Homo sapiens: one gene and its partners. The protein of the gene in region 4 interacts with the protein of the main gene of each other region in a pairwise test. Each region holds a gene or a part of one and is shown on either strand. Other genes may lie near its edges.

Region 1 (7,083 bases), on a different chromosome or scaffold from region 4:
ATTACAGGCATGCGCCACCACGCCCAGCTAATTTTGTATTTTTAGTAGAGACGGGGTTTCTCCATGTTGGTCAGGCTGGTCTCGAACTCCCGACCTCAGGTGATCCACCTGCCTTAGCCTCCCAAAGTGCTGGGATTACAGGCATGAGCCACCGAGCCCGGCATGTGTTTTTTTGTTTTGTTTTGTTTTTGAGACGGAGTCTCGCTGTGTCGCCAGGCTGGAGTGCAGTGACGCGATCTCGGCTCACTGCAACCTCTGTCTCCTGGGTTCAAGAGATTCTCCTGCCTCAGCCTCCTGAGTAGCTGGGACTACAGGCGCGCACCACCATGCCCAGTTAACTTTTTTGTATGTTTAGTAGAGACGGGGTTTCGCCGTGTTGGCCAGGATGGTCTCGATCTCTTCACCTCGTCATCCGCCCGCCTCAGCCTCCCAAAGTGCTGAGATTACAGGCGTGAGCCACTGTGCCCGGCTCCATTTCCATTTTCCTTGAAGGAAATCACGGAATAATTTTCTTAAAGTTATACAGCTATCAGTAGCACATCCTCAATTGTCTGACTCCAAGAAAGTTGTTTTATATAATAGGATATGTATAATGTGAGCCTCTTCAAATAATCTGAAAATTGAGGAACTCTATCAATAGAAAGCTTCAGGCCGGGCGTGGTGGCTCACGCCTACGATCCCAGCATTTTGGGAGGCTGAGGCTGGTGGATCACGAGGTCAGGAGTTGGAGACCAGCCCGACCAACATGATGAAACCTCGTCTCTACTAAAAATACAAAATTAGCCCGGTGTGGTGGCGCAGGCCTGTAATCCCAGCTACTCGGGAGGCTGAGGTAGGAGAATCGCTTGAACCCTCCAGGAGGTAGGAGATGGAGGTTGTGGTGAGCTGACATCGCGCCACTGCACTCCAGCTTGGGCAAGAAGAACGAAACTCTGTCTCAAAAAAAAAACAAAAACAAAAACAAAAAACAAAGCTTCATGGGGTTGAGAGCAATAGAGATCATTGCTGGAATCACATATAATCTTAAAACTTAAAAAATGGACAGGAAATAATTTTAAAAGAAAACTGACAATTTTTTTTTTTTTTTTTTGAGACGGAGTCTCGCTCTGTCGCCAGGCTGGAGTGCAGTGGCGCGATCTCGGCTCACGACAACCTCCGCTTCCCGGGTTCAAGCCATTCGCCTGCCTCAGCCTCTCGAGTAGCTGGGACTACAGGCACGTGCCACCACGCCCAGCTATTTTTTTTTTTTTTTTTTTTTGTAGTTTTAGTAGAGACGGGGTTTCACTATGTTGGCCAGGATGGTCTCCATCTCTTGACCTCGTGATCCGCCCGCCTCGGCCTCCCAACCAAGTATTTTTAAAAGACAGGTAAAGGGGAGCAAGGAATGAAAACCATAAAACCATATGGATTGACTATATCACCTGTCGTAGTGGAAAGGGTCTCACAACCAAGTGAGAACAAGCAGATTTACATTCCAATCCTGGTTCCACAGCCTGGGACCCAGCACTCACCTTCTTTTGGTCTAATTTCCTCATCGGTAATTTATTTTATTTAACTTTAAAAAATTTTTTTTATTTTTTTGCAGATAGGGTCTTGCTTTGACGCCTAGGCAGTGTCGCAATCTCAGCTCACTGCAACCTCTGCCTCTGAGGTTCAAGCGATTCTCCTGCCTCCTGCCTCAGCCTCCGGAGTAGCTGGGACTACAGGCGCGCGCCACCACACCCCGCTAATTTTTGTATTTTCAGTAGAGGCGGGGTTTCACTATGTTGACAGGCTGGTCTGGAACTCCCGACCTCAAGTGATCTGCCCACCTCGGCCTCCCAAAGTGCTGGGATTACAGGCTGAGCCACCACACCCGGCCGGTTTTCTCATCAGTAATTTAGATTTTAAAGTTCCCTTTAAGATTACTTGAATACTTAAAGTCTAAGCTTTTCGATTCTTTATTTCTCAATGAGGTTAAGAAAGGAAGTATTTCATGGCCAGGCGCGGTGGCTCACGCCTGTAATTCTAGCACTTTGGGAGGCCGAGGCGGGCGGATTGCCTGAGATCAGGAGTTCGAGGCCAGCCTGGGCAACACGGTGAAGCCCAGTCTCTACTAAAATACAAAAAATTAGCCGGGTATGGTGGCGTTGGTCCCAGCTACTCAGGAGGCTGAGGCAGGAGAATCGCTTGAACCCGGGAGGTGGAAGTTGCAGTGAGCTGAGATTGTGCCATTGCACTCCAGCCTGGGCGACAGAGCAAGACTCCGTCTCCCTGCCATCCTCCCCCCCACCCCCCCACCCCCCAAAAAGCAAGGAAGTATTTTAGGAAACCGGACAGGAAATAGAACCATTAATAAGGAGAATGTCATCATTCACAGAGTGCCAAAAATTCATCTGGGATGAATATGCAGCTCCCAGTGCTCTTCACTAATTCTTATGTACATGACTTGATTAACAGTTAAAGAATATCCTGGTCTCCATTTCTGCCATTTTAAAAGTAAGTAACCATTAATTACAGAAGCGTTCCTAATAGGTGGTAAGGTGGTCATCTAGGGTATAGCTAAGGGCCAGACTCGAGTCAATTAGAATCCTGGGACCTGTCAAACGCAGTCCTGCGGAGCAGCCTTCAGACAGTGAATCTATAAAATGGATGGTTTCTTTCTTTCTTTTTTGAGACGGGGTCTCCCTGTCACCCAGGCTGGAGTGTAATGGTGCCATCTCGGCTCACTGCAACTTCCCCTTTCCGGGTTCAAGGGATTCTCCCACCTCAGCCTTCCAAGTAGCTGAGATTACAGGCACCCGCCATCATGCCCGGCTAATTTTTGTATTTTTGTAGAGACGGGGTTTCACCATGTTGGTCAGGCTGGTCTTGAACTCCTGAGCTCAGGTGATCCTCCCCCACTCGGCCTCCCAAAGTGTTGGGATTATAGGCGTGAGCCACCGCGCCCGCCCGGATGAATTTTCAAATAGAAACAATCCAGTTTCCCACATCACACGGAGATTGTGTGGATGGGTAATCCATGAAAAGCCTGGTGCTGGCACTCAGTCCCAATAAATGTTAGCTAAAAATTAGGAACTTTTCAAAGGGATGAATGTGCTTTCTAATAGAAGTAGCTGCCAGTGACATCTTGGGAGCCTCTTTTTAAAAGCAAAAAATTATTTCATCTTAAATTTTCACAAGTTCAGATTTTTATGTACCTGATTTTAACGGAGTATGAAACAGCTTGCTCTCGTAGTTACTCACCGTCATATGTTAATCGTATCATTTCTGAGCTGTTTTTTGATTTTACAAACCCTTAAATTAAGAAACGGATTAGGAACCGCCCATTAACACTGTTGGCAAATGATTTAAAATCAGGGTTGCTGGTTTTTCTGTGATAATCTATCGGCTTCAAGACGCACAGATCTCACTTTCATGGAAAGAAGTTGCCTGATACAGTTTTCCACCGGAGAGAAAAATAAAGGCTGGTACTTGGAACCTGCAAGCCGTGCATTTGGAACCTCGGACTCAAGTGCCTATTACGTAATTCCACAGCGTCCCGGCCTCCAGGCCGTTTCCCGAGCCCTCCAGCGGAGCGGGGGATAAGGTTACCACGCCCGCGGTGGCCGGGGACACTCTGAGTTTCGCGTGTGGCTTTTAGGGACGTTTATATTTGAATTTCCCTGAACCGCCGAGTGTGGGCGGTGGCGCAGATCCGTCCCGGAAACCTCCGGGCTCCTTCCCGCCTTTCTCAGGCCCGGCCCCTCCAAGGGGTCCCCGCGGGGCGGCGGGAGGGCCCTGGGCCCAGAGCCGCGCGGGTGGGCAGTCCCAGGCGTCCTTCCTTACAGCCCTGAGCCTGGTCCGGGAACCGCCCAGCCGGGAGGGCCGAGCTGACGGTTGCCCAAGGGCCAGATTTTAAATTTACAGGCCCGGCCCCCGAACCGCCGAAGCGCGCTGCCTGCTCCCCATTGGCCCATGGTAGTCACGTGGAGGCGCCGGGGCGTGCCGGCCATGTTGGGGAGTGCGGCGCCGCGGCCCGCGCCACCTCCGCCCCCCGCGGCTTGCCTCCAGCCCGCCCCTCCCGGCCCTCCTCCCCCCGCCCGCCGCTCCGTGCAGCCTGAGAGGAAACAAAGTGCTGCGAGCAGGAGACGGCGGCGGCGCGAACCCTGCTGGGCCTCCAGTCACCCTCGTCTTGCATTTTCCCGCGTGCGTGTGTGAGTGGGTGTGTGTGTTTTCTTACAAAGGGTATTTCGCGATCGATCGATTGATTCGTAGTTCCCCCCCGCGCGCCTTTGCCCTTTGTGCTGTAATCGAGCTCCCGCCATCCCAGGTGCTTCTCCGTTCCTCTAAACGCCAGCGTCTGGACGTGAGCGCAGGTCGCCGGTTTGTGCCTTCGGTCCCCGCTTCGCCCCCTGCCGTCCCCTCCTTATCACGGTCCCGCTCGCGGCCTCGCCGCCCCGCTGTCTCCGCCGCCCGCCATGGCGACTGCGACCCCCGTGCCGCCGCGGATGGGCAGCCGCGCTGGCGGCCCCACCACGCCGCTGAGCCCCACGCGCCTGTCGCGGCTCCAGGAGAAGGAGGAGCTGCGCGAGCTCAATGACCGGCTGGCGGTGTACATCGACAAGGTGCGCAGCCTGGAGACGGAGAACAGCGCGCTGCAGCTGCAGGTGACGGAGCGCGAGGAGGTGCGCGGCCGTGAGCTCACCGGCCTCAAGGCGCTCTACGAGACCGAGCTGGCCGACGCGCGACGCGCGCTCGACGACACGGCCCGCGAGCGCGCCAAGCTGCAGATCGAGCTGGGCAAGTGCAAGGCGGAACACGACCAGCTGCTCCTCAAGTGAGTGCTAGCTGGCGGCCGCGTTAGCGCCAAGGAGGGGCGGGGGCGCAACCGCGGCGACCAGCTCACCGGGTTCTGCCGTGGGGAGGGAGCAGAGGCCAGGATGCACGCGTCCTTCTGAAGGAACAGGGTCTCGGTCTCCGGAAAGGAGAAAGAATCTAGAGTTCATAGCGGAGCAGGGGTCGCGGAGGGGGCTCGAGCTGTAGCGCTGGGGGGCCGTGATGCCCATTTCTAGATTTTGGATACCCGCTGGGACGTGGTAAGTGCGCGCCTGGGACTGCCGAGAAGGAGCTCCCGCTTTCGCACTCGAATCCGGGGAGCCGGCGCGGAGAGGCGGCCCCTCAGGCCCCAGGTGCGGGGAGCTGGAGCGCGAGCGCGCGCTCGCGTGCGCGCCCCAGTTTCCGGCCGGCGCGAGACAAAGCGTCTAGCGGATTTGCAGTGCCGGGATGGGCGGCCGGGGAGGACTGGCAGCCCGCCTCTAGAATGAATGAGCTTCGCGCGGGCAGAGAGAGGAAGGGGAGGGACCTTCCCGCAGCATCCGCGTCTCCTGGGGGTGGGTCCCGCTTTGGCGCGCTCAGTCTTGGCCCTGTGACGTTTTGCGAAGATTCTACGCCTGCTTTAGGCGGGAGAGAGAGGCGGAGCTTGATCCGTGCGCCTCCAGCCAGCCCCGGGCAAGTTAGGTTTGCTAGCTGGTTAGCTTTCTCTGGGGAAATGTGTCCTGTCCCAGCGGGGATGGTGCGGTCCCTCGGGTGGTTCTGCGCAGGGAAGGAAAGCTGGGTTTGTGCATGTCACGGCTACCGTTCTTAGAATTGCGGTTCTCCTACCCCTCAGGCAGCGGCCCTCTGTCCCCAGCTTTTGCCTCCTCGTAGTATAGTCAGGCTTTCGGGTAGAGACTGTGCTTAGTACCCCTTAGTCGACCACTGTGCAGATAGTAGACCAGGGCAGGTGACAGGGTGCTGTGTAAATGCTGAGTGTTTGAGCGAAGGAGAGTTTGTAATTCACCTAAGCGAGTGCGAGTTTTCATTCCAGTGCACAAGGATACATTTGCAGACCTTTGCTGGCCTTATTTTGACTTTCTGATAAGCAAAATGGCCTGTCATCAGTAGGCAACAAGTGTTGATGTCATGCTTTAGAGATTTGCAAAATTTGGGTCTGAAATTCATGGTCGCCATTAGCACTGCCAGCTGAAATTTCTGGAGGTACCTTATTCTCACTTTGACACCCTTTGCCCCTGGATGTCTTTCTGTCTGTATCTGCGTGAATGTCCCTGTCCGAAGTCTCTGAGATTTTGTGTATTTTTACTTATCCCTCCTATCATATGTTTTCGGTTCATAAAAAAGCATGTGCACGTGGTAAGAATAAAATAGTATAGACTGGTTTGTAGCGAAAAACGATAACTGCACTACCTCTTTCCGGAGGCAATCACATTTATCCCTTTTTGTTTTTATTTCTTTGGATATTTAGTTATACAACTCGAAAATAATACTAAGCTTGTATTTCCCTTTCTTGGATTTACTAAGCCTTGGTTTCATCTTTTAAAATGAGCAGTCAGTTAACTCACACTATTATTTCTATGTTCCTCCAAATTTTTTGCCACTGAATTCCTTCAAATCTTAGATATCGTTGCTTGTAAGACTTGCCATTATTATGTGTACCACTAAGAAAATAAAAACATCAGGACCAACTGTGTAGGATCCATCCTGTTGGACCCATCATGATGGGTTTCATAGATATTAAAATGTCAAACAGGGCCGGGCGTGGTGGCTCACGCCTGTAATCCCAGCGCTTTGGGAGGCGAGGTGAGCGGATCACTTGAGGTCAGGAGTTCGAGACCAGCCTGACCAATATGGTGAAACCCCGTCTCTACTAAAAATACAAAAATTGGCCGGACGCGGGGGCTCACGCCTGTAATCCCAGCACTTTGGGAGGCCGAGGCGGGCGGATCACGAGGTCAGGAGATCGAGGCCATCCTGGCTAACAAGGTGAAACCCCGTCTCTACTAAAAATACAAAAAATTATCCAGACGTGGTGGCATGCATCTGTAGTCTCAGCTACTTGGGAGGCTGAGGCAGGAGAATCGCTTGAACCCAGGAGGCGGATATTGCAGTGAGCTGAGATTGCGCCATTGCACCCCAGCCTGGCGACAGAGTGAGACCCCATCTCAAAAAAGAAAAAAAATCCGGGCGTGGTGGCGGGCGTCTGTAATCCCAGCTACTGGGGAGGCTGAGGCAGGAGAATCGCTTGATATCCAGGAGGCAGAGGCTGCAGTGAGCCAGATGGTCCAC
Region 2 (7,026 bases), on a different chromosome or scaffold from region 4:
TGATCTTGTCCATTTGATATTCCCCTCCCCCATAGCAAAATATTATTTAAAAAAAAAAAAAACAAAAAACAGGGTGGAGAGGAGGATAGGAAGGGGACAGTTGATAAAACCCCAGGGCCACAGCAGAGGCAAAGGGCATCTGGGGAGAGGGTTCGAAGCTGTGGCGGACTCCACTAATGTAACCCTCCAATGTCAAGCCATGGGCGTGATCAGTAGCTAAGTGATGACAAGGCTGTTGGGGGTGGACGGAAAAGACTTGGGGCAAAGCAGACTGTTTATAGCCTGAGCTGGTAGGGCCTGGTGCAGCAGCCTACCCGGAACTGGCACTACTCTTTCCCAGGTTCCCTGACTCTCTATCCTGGTCTCTGAGAGCGTGCCCTACTTCCGTTTCCCCCACTCCAAACACACCTGAGGCATCTTCCAGTGCTAGGCCCCATGCTGGCCAGCAGGGGTCGGGCATTGGGCCCAGGAGCCTCTGCAGCGGTGTGAGTCAGTGGCTTCCCTGGGGTATCCGTGGGGCTCCCGGGCCCTCTGGATGCCAAATCACTCCTTTCACTGCTTTGCGCCTCTCTTCTCACACATGCACTGCCCCAGACATCAGCGCGGGAACTGAACCAACCACCTGCTCCTGAGTTTCCCTCACTGGGTCCTTGGCAGGGGTGGCTCTGCTATGGCTGTTCGCACATACTCTCTGAAGTTCCCTCCCTCCCACCCACCCAGGCAGGAAACCAAGGTCTGTGGGAACCCAGGGCACCTTCTGACCCAGTACACACATTAGTACACATAGGGGCACAGGTCACTCATGTGAGACTTACATGAATCTCTCCACATACACCCCTATCCCAAAGAGACTAGCTGTAAGTGGCAGGGACAGAGGGCTCTCATTTTCAAAAGCATTTTTGGGAGGATAGTTTTCTAAATATTTTAAAATGGTTTACAGGGTACTGGAAGATGTGGGGTGAATCATCCCAGAAGTGAAGGACAGGAAAAGCCCAGATCCAGCAGAACCCTTGAACAGGAAGGGGGCTGGCTCACATGCAGAAAGATGCCCCTGCTTGCAGGGACCACAGGGCTGATCCAAGGACTGAGGTCTAAGTTCTGGACCACATCAAATGGGAGTGTCAGCATAGAGCTGTAAGAGTACATGGCAGCAAACACTCCTCAGCGTCTCCCCAAAAGGATCTCAGATGCTGTCAGGGAAAATCGAATGGGTGCCATGCCTGCTTTCTTTTTCCCTGAAATACTCATACCACAGAGGTATGGACAACCCCCTCCCCAACCCCACCCCTCCAGAATAGGTAACAGCCAGGAATCATTGCTGGTATCCATTCTTTACATTTTCTGGGAAATGAAATCATACTTTCAGGAGTTTCCCATCTCAGACCCTACTGACAGCTTGGCACTCAGGTTCAGCCAGTCTCCATGATTACTAAGACAGTTCCCGTACCCGCCACAGGTCAGGTCAGGTTACAGTGGGGGTCAACCAAACCCCAAAACTTCCCATAAGGATTCTTTCTTTAGCAGAAAGAAAAGGTTTATTTCACCTTAGAAAATTCATGTTCACAAGCCCTGGCTTGGGTTAGAAACATCCTAACCACCAGGCTGTTGAATTCATCTTAAAAAAAAAAACCCTCCAAAACAAAAGCCCTTCTGTTCCCCAAATTGTGTTCTTCAGCTCCTGCTGAGACCTCAAGCACCCTTCATGTTTGGGCAAGAGGAGGCTATTTTCCACTCATCCTCCCTGAAGGTGAGGGCCAGAGAAGGGTTTGGCTCAATAATATGCCATCTCCTGCAAGCATACAAATACATGCATTCATATCTCACACACACTCTCTCTCACACACACACACACACCCGATTACTTTTTTGGGAGTGGACAAGGTGGTGGTATTGGAGCAGAGAGGAGCAAAGAATATGGTTAAGAATGGAACCTACATTAGGTTTCTTCTTTAGTCTTTTCTCTGCAGCACCCCCACCCCCATCCCCCACACTCTGTTGGGTAGGGATGGCCATCAGGAAGCAAGCCGAGATCTTGTTTTTTGGGACCAAAGGACAGACCCCTCCCTACCTCCTCTACCTGAATACAGTGATAGGACTTGGGGAGGGAGAACAGCTCCTACTGCTCAACAGGCATGTCAGAAGACCCCAGATTCCTTTGTTTCTTGAGCAGCTGTTAGCCAACTTGGGACCAGTCTTGGGTTGTTCCTAAGAGGGCACAAGGAGAGAGAACCCACTTTGACTTCCATGACTCCTTGCTCAACACATCTGTCTCACTTTAGGAGTCAATGGCAGCGAGGTAGCCACATACCATCTCCAAGACCGACTCCCCAAAAAAAGAAGAAAAGGGCTTCATGGGCCACTCTCACCCAAGTTTCCTCCTAAAGGCATTTGAGCTGATGCCATCAGGTGCCAATGTGACATGGGCCATGACAACACCCACTGGCACAACTCTTCCTTTTCCCTTGAGGAAGGAAGAGGTGCCATCCACTTTTTGGATCCAGCCCTTGTCTGCTCCACCCCGTTTTTCCTTTTGTCCCTACAGTGTATAAGGAAGCCAAAGTAAGCTCAGCTGCCATTCCTGACCTTATTCTTCCTCAAAAAGGAGGCGAAGTGCAGGATTGTGAAACACTGAGGAGCTACTGCAACTAAAAACCCAATTTTTGGGGAGAGCTGGACCAGCTATAGTCCCTACTTTGGACCAGGACTCTTATGCCTCTGGATTACCTGTATCCACAGTTTACCCGCTGAAGTTGCTTTTGGATAAACAAAAACAAGAACAGAACAAACAAATCCCCTTCCCCAATCTTTTCCATTTCAGCTGCCAGCTGGAGTCCAAGGTTGTGGGAGCCACACTTCAGTCTTGGTCCTGTACCTTGAGTCCCCACCTATGACCTCAGCCAAGGGTCCAGGGACTAGCTCCCCTACCCAGGAATGCTGTAAGAACTTCCCCGAGATACTCATAGTCTCAGATTATTTACAGAGCTGAGGTTCTGGGGCCACTGTCCCCTGATGCACTCTTCTGGTCTCCTGGGTCCACTCCTCCAGGAGTGGGACAGGTTCACATGGGGCGGTGGTGGGACCATCAGACCAGAGGGGGTGTGCTCTTCGGCAGGTTCTTCTGATCACTCCCACCACCCGGGGCCCCTTGCGCCTATAGAGAAAACTGCCCGTCGGAAGTCTTGGACTGGCACCCTTGGCACATCCGTTTGTGTCTGAGTAATCGATCTGTCCGAGAAAAACACTGAGAAGAAAGGGAGGGTTAAGTGCCTGAGCAGACAAACGCAGCTACCTGTTGGCTAACTCATTCCTCTCACAGGAGGCAGATACCACATTCTCCATCCCCTCAGCACGTGCACAGACAGCAGGAGCACACGGTGGTGGAGAATCCAAGCTCTCAGGCCAGACCGCCTGGGGCTGAATCTTGGCTCTATCACTCAGCAGCTGTGTGACCTTGGGCAAGTTACCTAACAGCCCAGAATCTGCATACTCATCTGCAAAACTGCAAAGCGAGGCTAAAAGTACCTACTCACAGCACAGCTGCTTTATTCATCAAAGATTTATTGAGTATCTATCTCAAGGCAGATACAGAGTAGAGAACCAGAGGAACAAAGTCTCTGCCCTCATGGAGCTTTTATTCTAGCGTCTGAAGATTCAGTGTAAGAGTGCAGAGCAAAGCTTGGGACCTAGCAATGCATCCAGGAAGTGTTAGCTATTATCATTTCTCATCTCTTGTTCTTGTCTTGTTTTGGCCCCAGCTCTTACATTCTCATCAGATCAGATACTGACCCCCAGGGCAAAGATTGTATCTCTTCCTCCAAAGTGCATTAGCTCTGAAGTTGGACTGAATCCCAGCTCTGTTCGTGATCTGCGGTGTCCCTGGGAAACTTAACTTCTCTGAATCTCAATTTTCCCATACGTGAAATAAGGACAATACAGCTACCTTAGGGAGTCAATGTGAGGATTAAATAAAATCATCTATGTAAAGTATGCTCTCACAGTGCCTGGCATAGAGTAAGTGATATGGAATGCTATTATTATTATTATTACAATGTTCTAATTGCTGCTCCCCATGATCAGCTGCATAAGGCCAGACAGATGCACTTCACCCCGATGTGTTAACTATTATGGCGAGTAACGCTGGTGGCTCTTTTGTCAGGCAGGAGTGGAGGGTGGCCCTGATTCTTGGGGAAGGAAAAGTGTGTGTGGGGTATTGTAGCAGGGATGAGCCTTACCTGATGACACCGTTCACACTGGTAAGGCTTTTCACCACTGTGCACACGCTTGTGGCGTTCCAGGTGGTACTTCTGGATGAAACGCATATCACATATATCGCATTCAAATGGCTTCTCACCTGGCCCAGGTGGACAGAGAAGTGAATGTGGGGAGGTATGTACAGTAGGGACCTCATTCCAGTTTTCTCAGAAACTTTAACTCTTAGTAATGTGTAGACACCTAAGTGATCATAAATGGGGAGAGGTCCCCAAAGGTGCTGGTCTCAGTGACACCAGATACAAAGCCATGCAATCTCTCTGCTTCATTGACTTATCTTCTTCCTTCATTTCTAATACTTACCCATTAAAATAAACCCAACTAGAGCCACAAACAGACATGGAATACAAGCGATAGACTATTCTCCCCCTTTTGAATATAAACAAGAGACTTACCAGTGTGAATAAGGATGTGCCTCTTTAGGTGGTAACTGCTCCGAAAGGCTCCAAAGCAGTGTTCACAAACAAAATTTTTGGGAATCTTTACTTGAAAAGAACCATTTTGTTCCACTACCACCACCTGGGGGCAATAATCAGGCATGTCATGAGGCCACCACTGCCCTCTTCCTGGAGACACTGTTCTACTCTGGGTCCACTTCCAGCTGTTGGAGAAAGGAACCTCTCTGATGCTGTCTAAAGGTGCTGCCATCTCCTGTACTCCATGGAGGTAAGAGACCCTTTGGGGAAGGAGGTGGAGTGGGTAAGCTGTCTATCCTGTCAAACCCAGCAGTCTGAGTATGACTTGAGCTGGAGCCTGCCTGCTCCCATGCCTCGGGATCTGGGATCTCATGCTCCCCAACCTGTACCATTACTGTTCCAGCAAGGCAGGAGATCAACTACCAAGGTAGTCTCTGGATGAAATCTGGGGGACTCACTCACTGGCTATCAGAGATCAAAGCATCTAGGGAAAGCTCCAGGTTACATGGTAGAGGGAAGAAGGAGGAATATTACCCCATTACCAAACTGTATGAGTTTGGGGGATCACCCCATTACCTGCCTTTTTAACAGTCTTTTTTGAATGAGAGGCCTCAGACAAGCTGTCATCATCTTTGCGGCTCCGGGACTTATCACTGTCTTTTCGGTGACCCTTTGAAGACAAATCAAATCTAAACTCATAGCCCATCTCGGAACATGAGATGAGACCCAATGCAGCTCTCAGACAAAATTCATAAATGAGAGTAAACCACCTGCCCCGAAAGCTTAGAGGAAGTATACAACTATTTCCTCTCCAAGCACCTGGTCTTAAAAGAGTTGAAGGCACACAAAAGACCTTCCTTAGCTTTCTGAAATACCAATGTTCATCCATTCCCCAGTTGGATCCCCTTGCCCCACTTCCCTATGAGGAAGCATCAAGGAATCAGAGCTTGGTATCTCCTGGCAGAGAGCTTGGGCCACCCGATCCCCAGGTGCCACAATGGACTCAAGCGCTGTACCTGACTCGAGCACCTCAGCACATCAGGGCTACCTGCCCGCTCGCCATTCTCGGCCTGCTTGCTGGCAATCTGGCTCAGCATCATCTTCTTGCTGGCTGCAGTGGGAACCAAACTCACACCTGCTAGGCCTTCACAAGCCAGGAGACTTGCCTAAGTTGAAAGGAGATGAGGTGTCAGGTCACCTGGCAGGGCAGGGCAAAAACAGACTGCCATCCTCTATAGAACTACCTTTTACACCCTGCTACAAACTGCTTCTCTCCAGGGAATGTCCCTCCTCACTGCCAAAGCCTTGCTTCCTTCAAGAGTCCTCCCTAACTCATCTCACCAGGAACGACTTATCTTGTCATCCTTCAGCATTTAAATATAGATCAAGTAAATAATCAAGTATTACTGACACCTTTGTCATCAGCACTAGGCAGTGTGTGGCTACATATTTCTTTGAAGGTATTTCTAGGCCTTAACTGTGAGTGGGTATGAGGTTCCATCTTGCTAACCCACTGACACAGGAGATTCCTTCAGGACCTTCCTCCTTCCTCCCTCAACAGCCCTCAGCTGGGCCGAGTGCAGTGGCTCACACCTATAATCCCAGCACTTTGGGAGAATGAGGCGGGCGGATCACGAAGTCAGGAGTTCGAGACAAGCCTGGACAATAGGTGAAACCTTGTCTATACTAAAAATACAAGAATTAGCCAGGTGTGGTGGCACACACCTGCGGTCCCAGCTACTCGGGAGGCTGAGGCAGAAGAATTGCTTGAACCCGGGAGGCGGAGGCTGCAGTGAGCCGAAATCGCGCCACTGCACTCCAGCCTGGGCAACAGAGCGAGAATCCCTCCGTCACTCACACACACACACACACACACACACCCCTTAGCTTCAGAGCGCGCGCGCGCACACACACACACACACACACACACACACACACACACCCCTTAGCTTCAGAGCCCACTTTTGATTGGCAGATCTTGCTGGTGCCAACTGTATTTTCTATCGGTTTGTTTCATTTTTTGCTTGTTGGTTGAGACAGGGTGTCACTCTGTCGCCCAGGCTGGAGTGCAGTGGCACGATCTCGGCTCACTGCACTCTTGACCTCCCTGGCTTAAGCGATCCTTCTACCTCTACCTCCTGAGTAACTGGGACTTCAGGAGAATGCCACCACACCCGGCTATTTTTTTTTGTATTTATAGAGACGGGGTTTCACCATGTTGCCTAGGCTGGTGTGGAACTCCTGAGCTTAAACAATCCTCCAGCCTCAGTCTCCTAAGGTCCTGGGACTACAGGCTATTTCTCCCTTTAGATTTTAAACTCCCTAAGTATTTACCAATTGC
Region 3 (6,896 bases), on a different chromosome or scaffold from region 4:
TGGACCTAAAGGAAGTAGCGGCACTGTTTTAATAACACATCTATTTCATTCCAACGTCTGTGAGAGAATAGACGGTACTTAAGGTTAACCTATTTTGCACTGTGCTTGATGATATAAAATGGAGGCTTTCGAGAGAGCAAATCTTTGCTCGAGGCGATGAACCCACAGATCACTCATCAAACAAGGGAAATAGCATTTCCCAGCTCTGTCTAGAGACCGCTCCCGGCAACTTCAAGAGCAGTATGGAGGAAAGCTTGTCCAGCCGTACTTAACCAGGCAGGAGGCTATTTCATGTGTGCACACCAGAAGAGAAGCGAAAACTAAAAGGACAACGCACGAGTTTTAGGACTCAGGAAGGAGACTGTAAAGCTGTTATGTGGCCACCCCCAGAGACAGAACACTGTGTTTCCTTTGCATTCAATGGGAAATTAAACAAGAGCAAAATTCCTTTAAACCAAGGTCAAAATAAGCCATTTAGAATCATTTAATTTTTGTTATAAAATCTGTATATGAGGTTTGCTCCTCTAGAAACATCTGGCGTTTTAAAATTTAATCATCAGCAGGCTGGGCGCAGTGGCTCACGCCTGTAATCCCAGCACTTTGGGAGGCCAAGATGGGTGGATCATCTGAGGTCAGGAGTTTGAGACCAGCCTGGCCAACATGGTGAAACCCTGTCTCCACAAAAAAAAAAAAAAAAAAAAAAAAAAATTAGCCAGGTGTGGTGGTGGGCACCTGTAATCCCAGTTACTTGGGAGGCTGAGGCAGGAGAATCGCTTGAACCCAGGAGGCAGAGGTTGCAGTGAGCCGAGATCGCGCCATTGCACTCCAGCCTGGGCAACAAGAGCAAAACTCCGTCTCAAAAAATAAAAATTAAATTAAAATTAAATTAAAATTAAAAAATAAAATAAAATTTAATCATCAGCAAAGTTCAATTTGTTTCCACTGAATACACAAACACTCAAATGTTAACATATGTGAGCACAACTACGTTAACTTCAATTCTTTCATAAACAGGATTATTCCTCTTCCTGGTAATTAAATGCATTATGTTTGTCCTTAGGACTGCAAAATGTAACTTCACACTCACACAAGCCCAGCCCCAGCACTGTAAGGTTACACGGTTACTGTTAGTCAACCGACTCACAACCTTACCCTTTATAAACAAAACAAAGAAAGGCGTCAATAAACAACAGTACTTTTTGTTTCAAGTTCTCAACACTCAGTGATCGAGGCTCAATACTATGTTTCCTTAGCTTTATGTCTAATATGGAATCTACTATTAATAAATATCTGGCATTAAAAAGCCCTGGAATATTCATTGTAAGTACCAATACAGGGTCAGCCTACGTTTCTGAAAATCCCAAAATATCTTTATATTTCTGTTGCCATCCGTATTCAGACATTTCAAAAACCTCACAGCAAATTCTAACATACTTTTTCTTGAAGAGATGTGCATCCCTGTTCTTGAAAAATATCAAGTTCGTCCCTACTGCAATGACGATCTCGTCTGTGTCATAAAGCAAGATTCCCGTTTCCCTACCTATTCTCTCGTAGGGACACCCGTCCTCAGCTCTGCCCACTGTCCCTGACGTTTTCAGAAACGTTAAAATACTAGTGTTCGGAGGCTTCTAGCGAAGAGGGAGATGTTTTGTCCCCTCAAGCTACCATGATACATTTCCCTACTTCTCCACTATCTTCAATGCTTTAGAAAACACGACCAAATGAGAGAACCCATATTAAAAGCAGTACTTCCTAAAAGGGGGAAACCAGAAGCTCCAACTTCTCCAAATCGCTCAGCACAGTGGCTTTTCGACAGTCCCCAGCAAATCTTCGCCCCACGCCTGCCGTCTTTCCGATTAAATAAGATTGGAAACCACAATTAAATCAGTGTCATAACTTATCCGTCACTTACCATATCCGCCGGGACATTACTGGACATCTTGCCGTTTGATATACACCCAGATGTTTACGAAAAAAACAAACAAAGAAAAAAGAGCAGAAGTCTTCACGTTACAGAAATAAACCACGATTTTGACTGGTTCGTGATGTGCTTTCTCCCCCAAAAATAAAGTTATTTTGGAGCCAAAGTGCCGGTCAGGCCGAGGTTCTGGTTCGAAGAGGAACAATCCCCAGGAGCTGTGTGGCCGGAGCAGGAGGAAACTCCCGGGACAGCAGAGGCAGCCCCCGTCGTCGTCGTCGTCGTCAACAGCAGCAGCAGCCCCAGGACCGGCCGCGCCAGGTGGACCGAGCCGAGTGACACACGGACATGGAGAGGGGTGGGAGGGGGTTAAATGCGCCTTCCTCCTTTCCCAGCCCCGGCAATGATTCACACTTGCTCCCGAGTCAAGTCCTCATTAAGCAGGAGAAAAATGCCCCAGCGTGGATGTACACAGATAACTATGTAGCTACACATCGACGCGTGAGCCTTGAGTGGCGGCCGAGCGGTGGCCGGACGCTGGCCGCGGACCCTGCAGAGCCGCTGTCGGAGCGCCCGCGCGGACAGCGCGGGGAAACGGCTCAACTCGCGCCGCGGGGGCGAAGAGCCGGGCCGCGGAAACCCGCGCTCAAGGGCATTTAACTAGTTGGAAGCCAAAGCGAAAGACCGGAGCGGGGGACCGACAGCGCGGGGGTGCTCGGGGCCGGCCGGGACACTCCACAGCCCCTCTGGGCTCAGGCCGCGGGCGCCTCCGGACAGCAGCTGGGGTCGGGGCGCATCGTCTCCGGCTCCTCGCCACTCCTCTTCTGCCTCCGCCTTCCCCGCCGCCGCCTCCCCGGTCTCCGCCTTCCCTTCCCCTCCCCTCCCCGGCCTCGCGAGCTCCGGGCGACGCCGACTTCGGCTGGTCCCCGGAAGAGGCCGGGTCCTCCTTCTCCTCAGCCCGGGAATGGTTTCCTCTCAGAGCTTTGTTTCTCCTCCTCCTCCTTCACTTTTCAGTCCCACACGCCGCGGCCGCCTCCTGTCATCGCCTCTCAAACCAACATGGCGGCAGCGGCGGCGGCGGCGGCTGCCTGAGTGCGACTAAGGGAAACGGGGAGAGCACGGGCCCCCCCTCGCAGCAGCCGCCGCCCCCGTCCTCGTCCTCCCTCCGCGGACACCAAGTGCGTCACCACGGAGACCATTCCCTCGAGCATCACGGGAAGTGTAGTCTACGAGGGTGGGGGGGGGAGGGAGCCGCCGAACGCCTCCTCACCCAGCTCCGAAGCCACGCCCCCCATAGCAACAGTTGCGAGGAAAGGAAAGCTCCCTTTCCCTTGCTTTGGACAAGCTGCTGCCCAGGAGTTAAGTGATACCTGCTACCAGGAGTGCTGTGATCATGAGAATTGTTGGGAGAAAATAATTCTGCATAGAGAAATTCCCTTATGCACGATATGCACACAGAGCTAAAATATGCTGTACCTCCAAGCAGAATCATTCATTTTAATTACAGCACATTCTCCACATCCTGCAATCTCAATGCATTTTGTAGAGTGATTTCATCTAGGTCTCCTCAACATTACATTTTGAAGAACAAAAGCAATCATTGATTTCCAATAAGGTCACATAAGTTCAACAGGAACAAGGATCTCATTAAGCAGTGAGAATATTTGAACATGTGTTTCCTTGAAGACCCAGGGCAATAAAGCTACAATCTACTTAACTGAAATTACCAAAACTGTATTACATACAACAGTGTTATTATATCAAATCTGTATCAGGAAATAGCTACTACAAACTTCATGGGGATTCACCAGTTTACCCATCTGGACCCTAAATTCTATTCTATGTAACTCATAATGTAATTGAAAACCTATATGCCTTGCAGTGATTAGCAAATAGGAGAAAATAATGCCATTGTTGAGACACCATTCAGATGGACATTTGTGATTTCTGCATTTTGTTCCTAAATCTGAGGTCAACATCTGAATCCCTATTCATATCTCTTAGTCCTTTGACAGAGTACTTTAGAAAGGGCAGTCTCAATATGATGCCTATATATAAATGCCAATGAATTTAGAGTCTGAAAGCCACCTCTCCAACCTACAGCTGTGTGACCTCATCTGTAAAATGGTCTTGCCTACCTTCCGGGGTAAAGTAGGGGTAGTTATGAGGATGAGTTCATGCATGGGAAATAAATCACTTTGTAAATAATAATGCATCATTTGATATGAAATGTCACTACTCATTCTCTCATTCAGCAAACAAATGTGCCAGGCACTCTGCTAGGCACTAGGAGTTTAAAAATGAGTCACTGTAGCGAACAGCAGCATCATGTGGCAGAAATGCCAAGGTCTTGGGTTGGCAATGGGGGTTATTACATCCTTGTCTATAGGGCTGTTGAAAAGAGGCAGAATCCAGTCACTGTCCTCAGGGAGCTCATTGTCTAGAAGCCTACGTGATTCCCCACAGCAATCTCTCCAGTTGGGTTTCTCATCAGTTGGAAACCCACAGGACATTTAGAGTACCTGCCTCTTGAGTAGCCTGGGTGGAGAAATTCCAAACACTCCTAAGGGCCTATATCACCCTGAGGAAGATAGATCAAATTCTCCGAAAAACCAAAGGCCAGAAGAGAAGAGAGGCCCAAATCTCACTGTGATTAGGCTTCAGGACTTTGTCTAGATATTTCCAAGTCCATAGTTACGTGATTTTCCATGGCCTTTGTTACTTGGTTGCTCATTTGCAATGTTTAGCAACCACAGAGTCCCCCTACCCCTACACCAGCCCCCCAGGAAATAAGGGCAGGTGAAAATACTTCAATTGACCAATGAGCTCAGAAGGAATATTGGAGCACATTTTGAAAGCTCTAACTCACAGAGTTAGTCCCTCCACCATACCCTTGACTCCAACTTTTATCCAATGACCTCCCTGGCCATGGCACTGCCTGGCCATGGCACTGCCGGGCCTAAGTGCCACTGTAAGTAGAAAGGCAAGAGTTGCTGTTTGCTGCAGGTTACCACTGCCACCTTTACAAAAGGCAATGTCTTTCAAAAGTCGCTGTGTTTCCAATTACTCTTCTAAGAGGGGCTGAGACATTATTCTCAATAAAACTCATTATAACTCATCCCTAACATTGTTAAGGCATGAGGTAACATTATTGGACACAGTTGCAGATTTTTCCACTCTTTCTTTTCTCTTTGCTTCCCAGCTCAGGCGGGTGAGGTGGGAGGCTGTAGAAAGGAGTTCAGCTGTCCCAAGCAGGAAAAGGTAGCATCTTCTTGACACCAGGAATCTATTGTCAGCATCAGTTGGAAGAAAGTGAATGACACAGCATTTTTGTAATGGGAAAAATAACTTCATAGGAAGTCAAAAGACCTGGCTCTGCCACGAATTAGTTATGTGACCTTTTGCCTCTCTGAGTTTCAATTTCTTCATCTGAGAAGCTTGAACTAAATCTCTAAGGTCCCTTCTAAGAGTCTATGAGTGTCAAGTCCTGGAAAAATAGGGCATGACACCGATGGCCTGTTAAAAATATCTTCCCTAAGTGACTACTTATGGGTAGGAGGGATTTTGGGGGAACAGGGAAGGTGGAATGATGACAACCTAAAATTAGATTTTGGCGATGGTTGTAGAACTCTGTAAATACACAGGAAACCACTGGATTGTACACTTTAAATGAGTAATTTTTTATTTGTTAAAATGTAGCAAAATACACATAACATAAAATTTAACATCTTAGTCTTTTTTACATTTTCAGTTCAGTGGCATTAAGTACGTTCACACTGTGCAACCACCACCACCATCCATTCACAGAACTCTTTTCATCTTGCTCCCTGAACTCATTAAGCACCAACTCCCCTTTCTGTCTCTCCCAAACACCATTCTACTTTCTGTTTCTATGTTTTTTTACTACTCTGAGTACTTCATATGAATAGAATCATATGGTATTTGTCTTTTTGTGGCTAGCTTATTTCACTTAGAAAAATGTCTTCAAGATTTATCCATATTATAACATGTCAGGATTTCCTTCCCTTGTATGGCTGATTAATTTTCCATTGTATGTATATACCACATTTTATGTATTCATTTATCCATGGATAGACACGTCAATTGTTTCTACCATAGAGCTATTGAGAAATGAGTGGATTTTATAATATGTAAACTATATCTCATACATTTGTTAACAAATATATCTCCCCCATCTACCATGTAAGTGTCTAAAATGGCTCCCATCTTAAGATCATTCCTGAAGGATCTTCTCAAGGAACCTCATGAAGTTAAAATAACTAAATGGAAGAATTACTTTCTGTGAAACCAGTAAACTTTTATCATGTGGTTCTTTAGTTGATTATCTCATGATGCCATGCTCTGTCATTTACAAAGGATCAGAGAGTAGGAAAATGCCATAAGAAGCAGAGACAGCCTTTGCCATCTCCATTCAGTTTTGCTCAAGGCTGGCCTGATCTGCAGGTACCCAGACCCCCAGACACAGTGTGGAGTTTCCTATCAAAGGGCAGCTGGAACCCTATGTGTTCTGGTCATGGCCCAGGGGCAGGGGCCCAGTGTGAGGGCAATCACAACTCTACCCATGCCTAAGGTTCTGCTTTAAGTCTTTTATTTGATTCTAGCCAATGTAAGAGTCACTTCAAAGACTTAGTAAAATTATTCTGTACTTCCCATGAGAAAACTATGTGAAAACCTCTAACATAGAAGGGGTCTCAAGAAATGTTGATTCTGCCACGTGCAGCGGCTCATGCCTGTAATCCCAGCCCTTTGGGAGGCCAAGGCGGGTAGATCACCTGAGATCAGGAGTTTGAGACCAGCCTGGCCAACACAGCGAAACCCTGTCTCTACTAAAAATACAAAAAAAATTAGCTGGGAGTGGTGGCAGACGCCTGTAATCCCAGCTACTCAGGAGGCTGAGGCGGGAGAATCACTTGAACCTGGGAGGCAGAGGTTGCAGTGAGCCGAGATCACGCCACTG
Region 4 (7,026 bases):
TCTCACCTCATTGACTTCCTATCACCCAGGGGGCTTTGTTCTTTGCTGCGTGATGTCCAGTGTTTTGAAAAGTGTTTTTCATAGGTTTTATCCAGTTTTTTTTTATTGTTTGAGGCAAGAGGGTAAATCAGCTTGCTGTTATTCTATCTAGGGTGGAACAGTGACTTGCTTCCAATGAACAGAATGTGGAGGAAGTGACAACATGTTACTTTTGAGACTAAGACATAAAAGGTATTTTGGCTTCTTCATTGCTCTCTCTCTCTTTTGGATCAGTCGTTCTGGGAGAAGCCCGCTGCCACAAATTAAGGACATTCAAGCAGCCCTTTGGAGAGATCCAAGTGGTCAGGAAACAAGAATTTCTGCCAACAGCTAAGTGAATACGCCATCTTGCAACTGGATCCTCCAGCCTCAATCAAGCTTTCAGATGACTGACATCTTGGCTACAATCTCATGAGGGACCCCAAGCCTGATCTACCTAAGCCACTTATGAATTCCTAACTCATAGTAACTATGAGATGATGTTTATTAATTTAGACCACTACATTTTGGGATAATTTGTTACACAGCAATAAACAATGAATAGAGGTACCAAATTCTGCTCAAACTGTAGAAAGGATCAGTTGAATTTCTTAAATAATTTTATCCTTTTCCCATCCCCAACCCAGCCTAAGTAACAATGCACAGACAAAATCCCCATACTTAGCACTGGAGCATTTATACTCAAAACTTTCCCTGTGTGACTTTTGTCAAGAAATAAACCATGAGTTGTTATAAGCCTAAGGTTCTGTCAAAGCAACCAGGGTATGTTCTAACTCAAGAAGCATGAAGTAATATATATTATTTTCATTCTTTATAGTATCAACAGAGATGTTATCTTTCCACTTCCAATGAGGGAAACTAAGGCATTAATAAAAAAATAGATTTCAGTCATATATTACATTCATAATTCAGCAATGGATTTATGAAATTTCCTCTTTTGGAAATCTTAAATAAGACTTATATCCATTTGATAACGTATATTAGCAGCAAGGCTACCTCAAGGAAGGAGATGCATAGAACCTCTGGAAGTCTTTCTCTTCACTATGATTCTGAATTTTATACAAGGGAGAAAGGGAAGATTGAAATTTTGAGGAGGAGCATAGATAATTGTTTATGTATGAAGGAGCTTTGTAAAGACACTGCCCCTGGCCCAGCCATTGCCTTCCATAACCCTAGGGGGCAGTTTCACCTGAGTCTATGTGGAATGTAGAAAAAATATTTTCATGTTTTTGCATAGTTAGGGCTTTCTGAGCAAAGAAAACTGGTACCTGGGTTAAAGGGCAAGTCTTGGAAGTTAAAAGATGATTGAATAGTCAGAGACCTCAGAAGAGATTTAGAGGCTTCCCTCCTTGTGTGTTTACATTTCAAAGGGCATAAAAGGAGTCAGTTGTTTACATTTCAAACATCTGTCAATGCCAAGGTTTCTCTCCCTCTCTCTGGAGTGGAGCTTGTAGCCTATTTATACTCCCAGATTAATAATTTTGGATTTTCTCTTCAACAGTACACACCCCTATATATGCAGGATGCCCTCTGGCTCTCATGGTGTTACTCGGGGGCTACTGTGTGTGGAGAAGTAGTGCGGTTATTGTTATAAGTATTAATAACTGTGATCTCTATTCCAGAAACCTTACCACTGTATTTGCTTTCAGGGTAAAATGAATAAATATAGATATACTTACCACAAAAGGGAGGATGCACTCATGCTGATCTTGTACCATGTATAAACTGAACAGGGACATGCGGCTGGGGCCCATCAAGCTGCAGGCTAGAGAGAAGAAGTTCTGCAGAGCCTCACAGAGGTTGGTGCAGATGTCAGCCCAGGACGGTAGAGCAATGTGCACAATGAGAAGCCGTGGAGGTTGCTGGTCAATCTGAGTGTGAGTAGAGGGCCCTTTACCAGTAGTTCGCCCAGGATGCATGGCAGCAAAACCAGAGGGGGAACTGTAGCCACCAGCTGGATATTCTTTACACCTATAGGGAAGGAAAGAGAAACCACTGGTTTTCAAACTGAATTATGTGTGCTCTGTTGAAATATAAAATACAAGTCGAGGGAAACAAATCCAGAAAGGAGTCAGATTGGGTACTAAAGCTTGTCCAGGCCATCCTATTTTTTTTTTTTTTTTGAGACAGAGTCTCGGTATGTCACCAGGCTGGAGCGCAGTGGTGCGATCTTGGCTCACTGCAACCTCTGTCTCCCAGGTTCAAGCGATTCTCCTGCTTCAGCTTCCCGAGTAGCTAGGACTACAGGTGCACACCACCACGCCCAGCTAATTTTTGTATTTTTAGAGATGGGGTTTCACCATGTTGGCCAGGATGGTCTTGATCTCTTGACCTCACGATCCGCCCGCCTTGGCCTCCCAAAGTGCTGGAATTACAGGCGTGAGCCACCGTACCTGGCCCAGGCCATCCTATTTTAACAGCTCCCAAGAGATCTAGATGTTTGCCTATCATGTAAGCCTGAGAATGCTTAGAGATGCTGAGTGGAACTAATCAAAAGTTACACCAAAAAACTCAAGCTTCTGTCTCAAAGTAAGCTATCTGCCCTCATAAACTTTGTTTCTTTATTGGCATTTATTGCACTCTATTACAATTTGTTTCTATGACTGCCTCTCCCACTATATTGTAAGCTTCCCAAGGGTAGAGAACCTGTCTTGTTGATATTATTCATCAATGCCTAGCATATGTGTGTTTAGTACCTAACGAATAATTCTTAAAAATGAAAATATGACTACATTTCTCCTTGGTTAAAATTCTTTGGTTGTCTGAATCTCTTATAAGGTAAAATTTAAACTGTCTTTAAGACCTGTCATTACTTAATTGTTAGCCTCATTAGAAATTGTTCTTCGCCTCAAGATTTTCACGGAAACAATACCAAATATATTCACTTTAGTGCATTTGCTCATGCTGCTTCTCTGCCTCCAATACTCCTGCCTTCTTTCTCTACTGGCTACTTATACTTATCCCCAGGACTCAGATTAGGAAGTGAGAACAATTGAGAACAAAGAACCAATATAAGGAATGAGAAAGGGACATCATCACAAATGCTCAAACGTGAAAAGGGTTATAGGAGGACATAATGAATAGCTTTATGCTAATAAGTTTGATAAAGTGGACAAATTCCTAGAAAAATGTATCTAACCAATACTAAAGAAATTTTAGAAACCTAAATAGTCTATAATCATTAAGGAAATGTAATTGGTAATCAAATATCTTCCCACAAGTAAGAGGGTCAGATGATTTCACTGATGAGCTCCATCAAACATGCAAAGACCAAGAATTTCAATCTTTTTTTTTTTTTTTGTAGAGATGGGGTCTTGCCATGTTGCCCAAGATGGTCTCAAACTCCTGGGCTCAAGTGATCCACCTGCCTCGGCCTCCTGAAGTGCTGGGATTACAGGTGTGAGCCACCGCGCCCAGCCAAGAATTTCAATCTTAAACAAATTATTTTAAGAACAGAAGAACATATATAACAGGATACACTCCTCAACTAATTTTTTTTTTTTTTTTAGATGGAGTTTCACTCTTGTTGCCCAGGCTGGAGTGCAATGGCATGATCTTGGCTCGCTGCAACCTCCGCCTCCCGGGTTCAAGCGATTCTCCTGCCTCAGCCTCCTGAGTAGCTGGGATTACAGGCATGTGCCACCATGCCTGGCTAGTTTTGTATTTTTAGTAGAGACAGGGTTTCTCCATGTTGGTCATGCTGGTCTCGAACTTCTGCCCGCCTCGGCCTCCCAAAGTGCTGGGATTACAGGCGTGAGCCACGGCACCTGGCCTCCTCAATTAATTTTACGAGGTTAGCACGACCTTTGAAAGTGAAACCAGATAAAGGTGTAATAAGAAAAAAATTATAGGATAATCTCACCCATAAACTTGTAAAAATTCTAAATAAAATATAGAGAAATTGAAACTAATAATATACAAAAAAAAACAGCATGACCAAGTTGAGTTTATCCCAAGAACATAAGGTTGATATAACATTAGAATATCAATCACGTAATTCGTCACATTAAAAAAGTAAATGAGAAAAATGATATGATCATCCCAATAGACGCAAAAAAGCCTCTGTTTAAAACCCAGCATTTGTGCATGATAAAGACTGAGTAAGAATAGATGATAGGAATAATCTGACAAAATATATTTACAAAAAGAGAGAGCAAACATCATTCTTCATGGTGATATGTTGAAAGCTTTCCATGTAAGACAAGGAGCATGCTATCATCACTTCTATTCAGCATTATAGTGAAGGTAGTAATGAGGTAAGACAAATAAATAAAAGGCATTGCAATGGAAGAAAGAAAACTGTCATTGTGTGCCAATGATTGTGTATATAGAAAATCTAAAATAATCTACAGCTTTGTAATTTTTCCCAAAAGATCTCCTTGTCTTTTGTCAAATTTTAGTCTTAGGGATCTGTTGATTTTTAAATATTAATTTACATTTCAAAGAACTATCGATGACAAAGTTTCCCTTTCTCATCTTTTTAAATTTCATTTTTAGTTTGTTGCTTATGTATAGAAATATAGTTAATTAAAACAATCTTTTATAGAGATGGGGTCTTGCTATGTTGCCCAGGTTGGTCTTGAACTTCTGAGCTCAACCAATCCAACCGGCTCTGCCACCCAAAATGCTGGGATTATAGGCATGAACCACTGTGCCCAGCTATAATTAATTTTTGTATATTGACTTTAACAACCTTGCTGCACTCTCTTACTAATTATAATAATTTATCTATAGAACTTTTTGGATTTTTTTTGTTCTTAATCATATAATCTTTAAATAATCATATATAACAGGATACATGAAAAAAAAGTCAGATCATAGCAGCCAAAAGACTATTAATAACAATCTTGTTCACAATTACCCAAAACTGAAAAAAACACAAATGTCAATCTACATTAAAATGGATAAATCATAGTATATTTCCACATACAGCAATGAAGATGAATGAACTGCAGTTCCATGTGGCAACATGGATGATTCTAAGAAACATAATATTGAGTAAAAGCAGCAAGACACAAAGAATACATACACATGTAGCATGATTTCATCTACATTTTAAAAATAAGCAAAAGTAGTTATATTGTTTAGAGGTGCATACACAGTGATAAAATTATAAAGAAAAGCAAAGAATTGATTATCACAAAAATGAGGGTAGTGATTTTCCCTAGGAAAGAATGAAGGCATTATGATGAGAAGAGACAAAAGAAGGGGGTCCTGGGGTGTTGGTAATGTTCTTTTTTTTTTTTTTTTTTGAGACAGGGTCTCGCTCCATCGCCCAGGCTGGAGTGCAGCAGTGGCCCAATCTCAGCTCACTGCAACCTCCACCTCCCAGGCTCAAGTGATCCTCCCACCTCAGCCTCCTAAGTACCTGGCACTACAGGCATGCACCACAATGCCTCTCTAATTTGTGTGTTTTTTTGGTAGAGACAGGGTTTTGCCATGTTGCCCAGGCTGGTCTCAAACTCCTGGGCTCAAGCAATCCTCCCACCTTGGCCTCCCAAAGTACTGGGATTACAGGGATGAGCCACCACTTCCAGCCTAATGTTCTATTTCTTGATCTTTATTGTGGATATTGGGTATTCACTTTCTACTATTAAACTACACATTCATGTTTTATGACATTTTCTGTATATATGTTATATTTAATAATAAAAATATTTCAAGAAGAACATTAGGACAATCAAAAGAAAACAAAAGAAATATGATAAAAAAGATAGCTAAAAAATATGTCCCCACCTCTGAGAACTAAAATCATTCTATATAATTGTTTTTAGCTAAAGAATGTAGGGAAAATTAAAGCTTATTTGATTTCCCCTGTGACAATACAAAGATAATTATGATAATTTTCAGAAACACTTTGGAATTTAGAATCTTTAAAAATGATCTAAGAATACATAGATAGGCCGGGCGCAGTGGCTCACGCCTGTAATCCGAGCACTTTGAGAGGCTGAGGCGGGTGGATCTCAAGGTCAGGAGTTTGAGACCAGCCTGACCAACATGGTAAAACCCCATCTCTACTAAAAATACAAAAATTAGCCGGGCGTGGTAGCACGCGCTTGTAATCCCAGCTACTCAGGAGACTGAGGCAGGAGAATCGCTGGAACCCAGGAGGCGGAGGTTGCAGTGAGCCAAGATCGCGCCATTGCACTCCAGCCTGGGTGACAGCGCGAGACCCCGTCTCAAAAAAAAAAAAAAAAATACATAGATAGATGTATTTCCCCAAATGAATCAGTGAAGTTATTCTCTTCAAACTTCCCTTTTTGGATAGTGGAAGTCAGCATTTGTTCATTCAACATTTTTAAAAATTGAGTTCCAATTACGTGCTGGATACAGCTAGAAAAATAAATGAATTAATATGCTAATCTGTTGAAAGTCATCTTGAACCAGAAACCCAAATCAATTACTAATGTATTTACCAAGAAAGCACATAACATATTTTTAAACTGTACTTTAAGTACATGGGGCCAATTTCTACATGGAATGCTGAACTTGAAGCTGACACAGAGAAATTCACACAAACAGGTAGTCAGAGGCCTTATTTAATGTATAATTAAATTTAATTATCCATCTCCATCTCTCACATCTGAAAACGCCATTTTAAAGTAGAGGCAGGACAACCTGCTCAGGTCCCCTTCCACACTGTGGAAGCTTTGTTCTTTCGCTCTTTGCAATAAATCTTGCCGCTGCTCACTTTTTGGGTCCGCACTGCCTTTATGAGCTGTAATACTCACCGTGAAGGTCTGCAGCTTCGCTCCTGAGGCCAGGGAGACCACAAACCCACCGGGAGGAATGAAAAACTCCACACACGCCGCCTTAAGAGCTGTAACACTCACTGCAAAGGTCTGCAGCTTCACTCCTGAAGCCAGCGAGACCATGAATCCACCAGAAGGAAGAAACTCCAGACACATCCGAACATCAGAAGGAACAAACTCCGGACACACCATCTTTAAGAACTGTAACACCGCCAGGGTCCGCGGCTTCATTCTT

The links.
Region 1: the proteins of M1AP (region 4) and LMNB1 interact in binary tests that used the Homo sapiens proteins (3 or more experiments, as listed by UniProt).
Region 2: the proteins of M1AP (region 4) and ZNF740 interact in binary tests that used the Homo sapiens proteins (3 or more experiments, as listed by UniProt).
Region 3: the proteins of M1AP (region 4) and UBL3 interact in binary tests that used the Homo sapiens proteins (3 or more experiments, as listed by UniProt).

What each region holds. Positions count from the first base shown.
Region 1 is NC_000005.10:126,773,070-126,780,152, forward strand, and holds the start of LMNB1 (lamin-B1), read left to right. Parts: upstream 1-4,066; 5' UTR 4,067-4,439; coding exon 4,440-4,798; exon of another isoform or gene 4,799-5,281; coding exon of another isoform or gene 5,282-5,490; intron 5,491-7,083. UniProt on the Homo sapiens protein: Lamins are intermediate filament proteins that assemble into a filamentous meshwork, and which constitute the major components of the nuclear lamina, a fibrous layer on the nucleoplasmic side of the inner nuclear membrane.
Region 2 is NC_000012.12:53,183,716-53,190,741, reverse strand, and holds part of ZNF740 (zinc finger protein 740), read right to left. Parts: intron 5,852-7,026; coding exon 5,702-5,851; intron 5,356-5,701; coding exon 5,266-5,355; intron 4,789-5,265; coding exon 4,665-4,788; intron 4,352-4,664; coding exon 4,233-4,351; intron 3,242-4,232; coding exon 3,152-3,241; 3' UTR 1-3,151. UniProt on the Homo sapiens protein: May be involved in transcriptional regulation.
Region 3 is NC_000013.11:29,847,600-29,854,495, forward strand, and holds the start of UBL3 (ubiquitin-like protein 3), read right to left. Parts: upstream 3,019-6,896; 5' UTR 1,940-3,018; coding exon 1,913-1,939; intron 1,834-1,912; exon of another isoform or gene 1,435-1,833; intron 1-1,434.
Region 4 is NC_000002.12:74,638,318-74,645,343, forward strand, and holds part of M1AP (meiosis 1 arrest protein), read right to left. Parts: intron 6,792-7,026; exon of another isoform or gene 6,771-6,791; intron 2,011-6,770; coding exon of another isoform or gene 1,959-2,010; coding exon 1,719-1,958; intron 1-1,718. UniProt on the Homo sapiens protein: Required for meiosis I progression during spermatogenesis.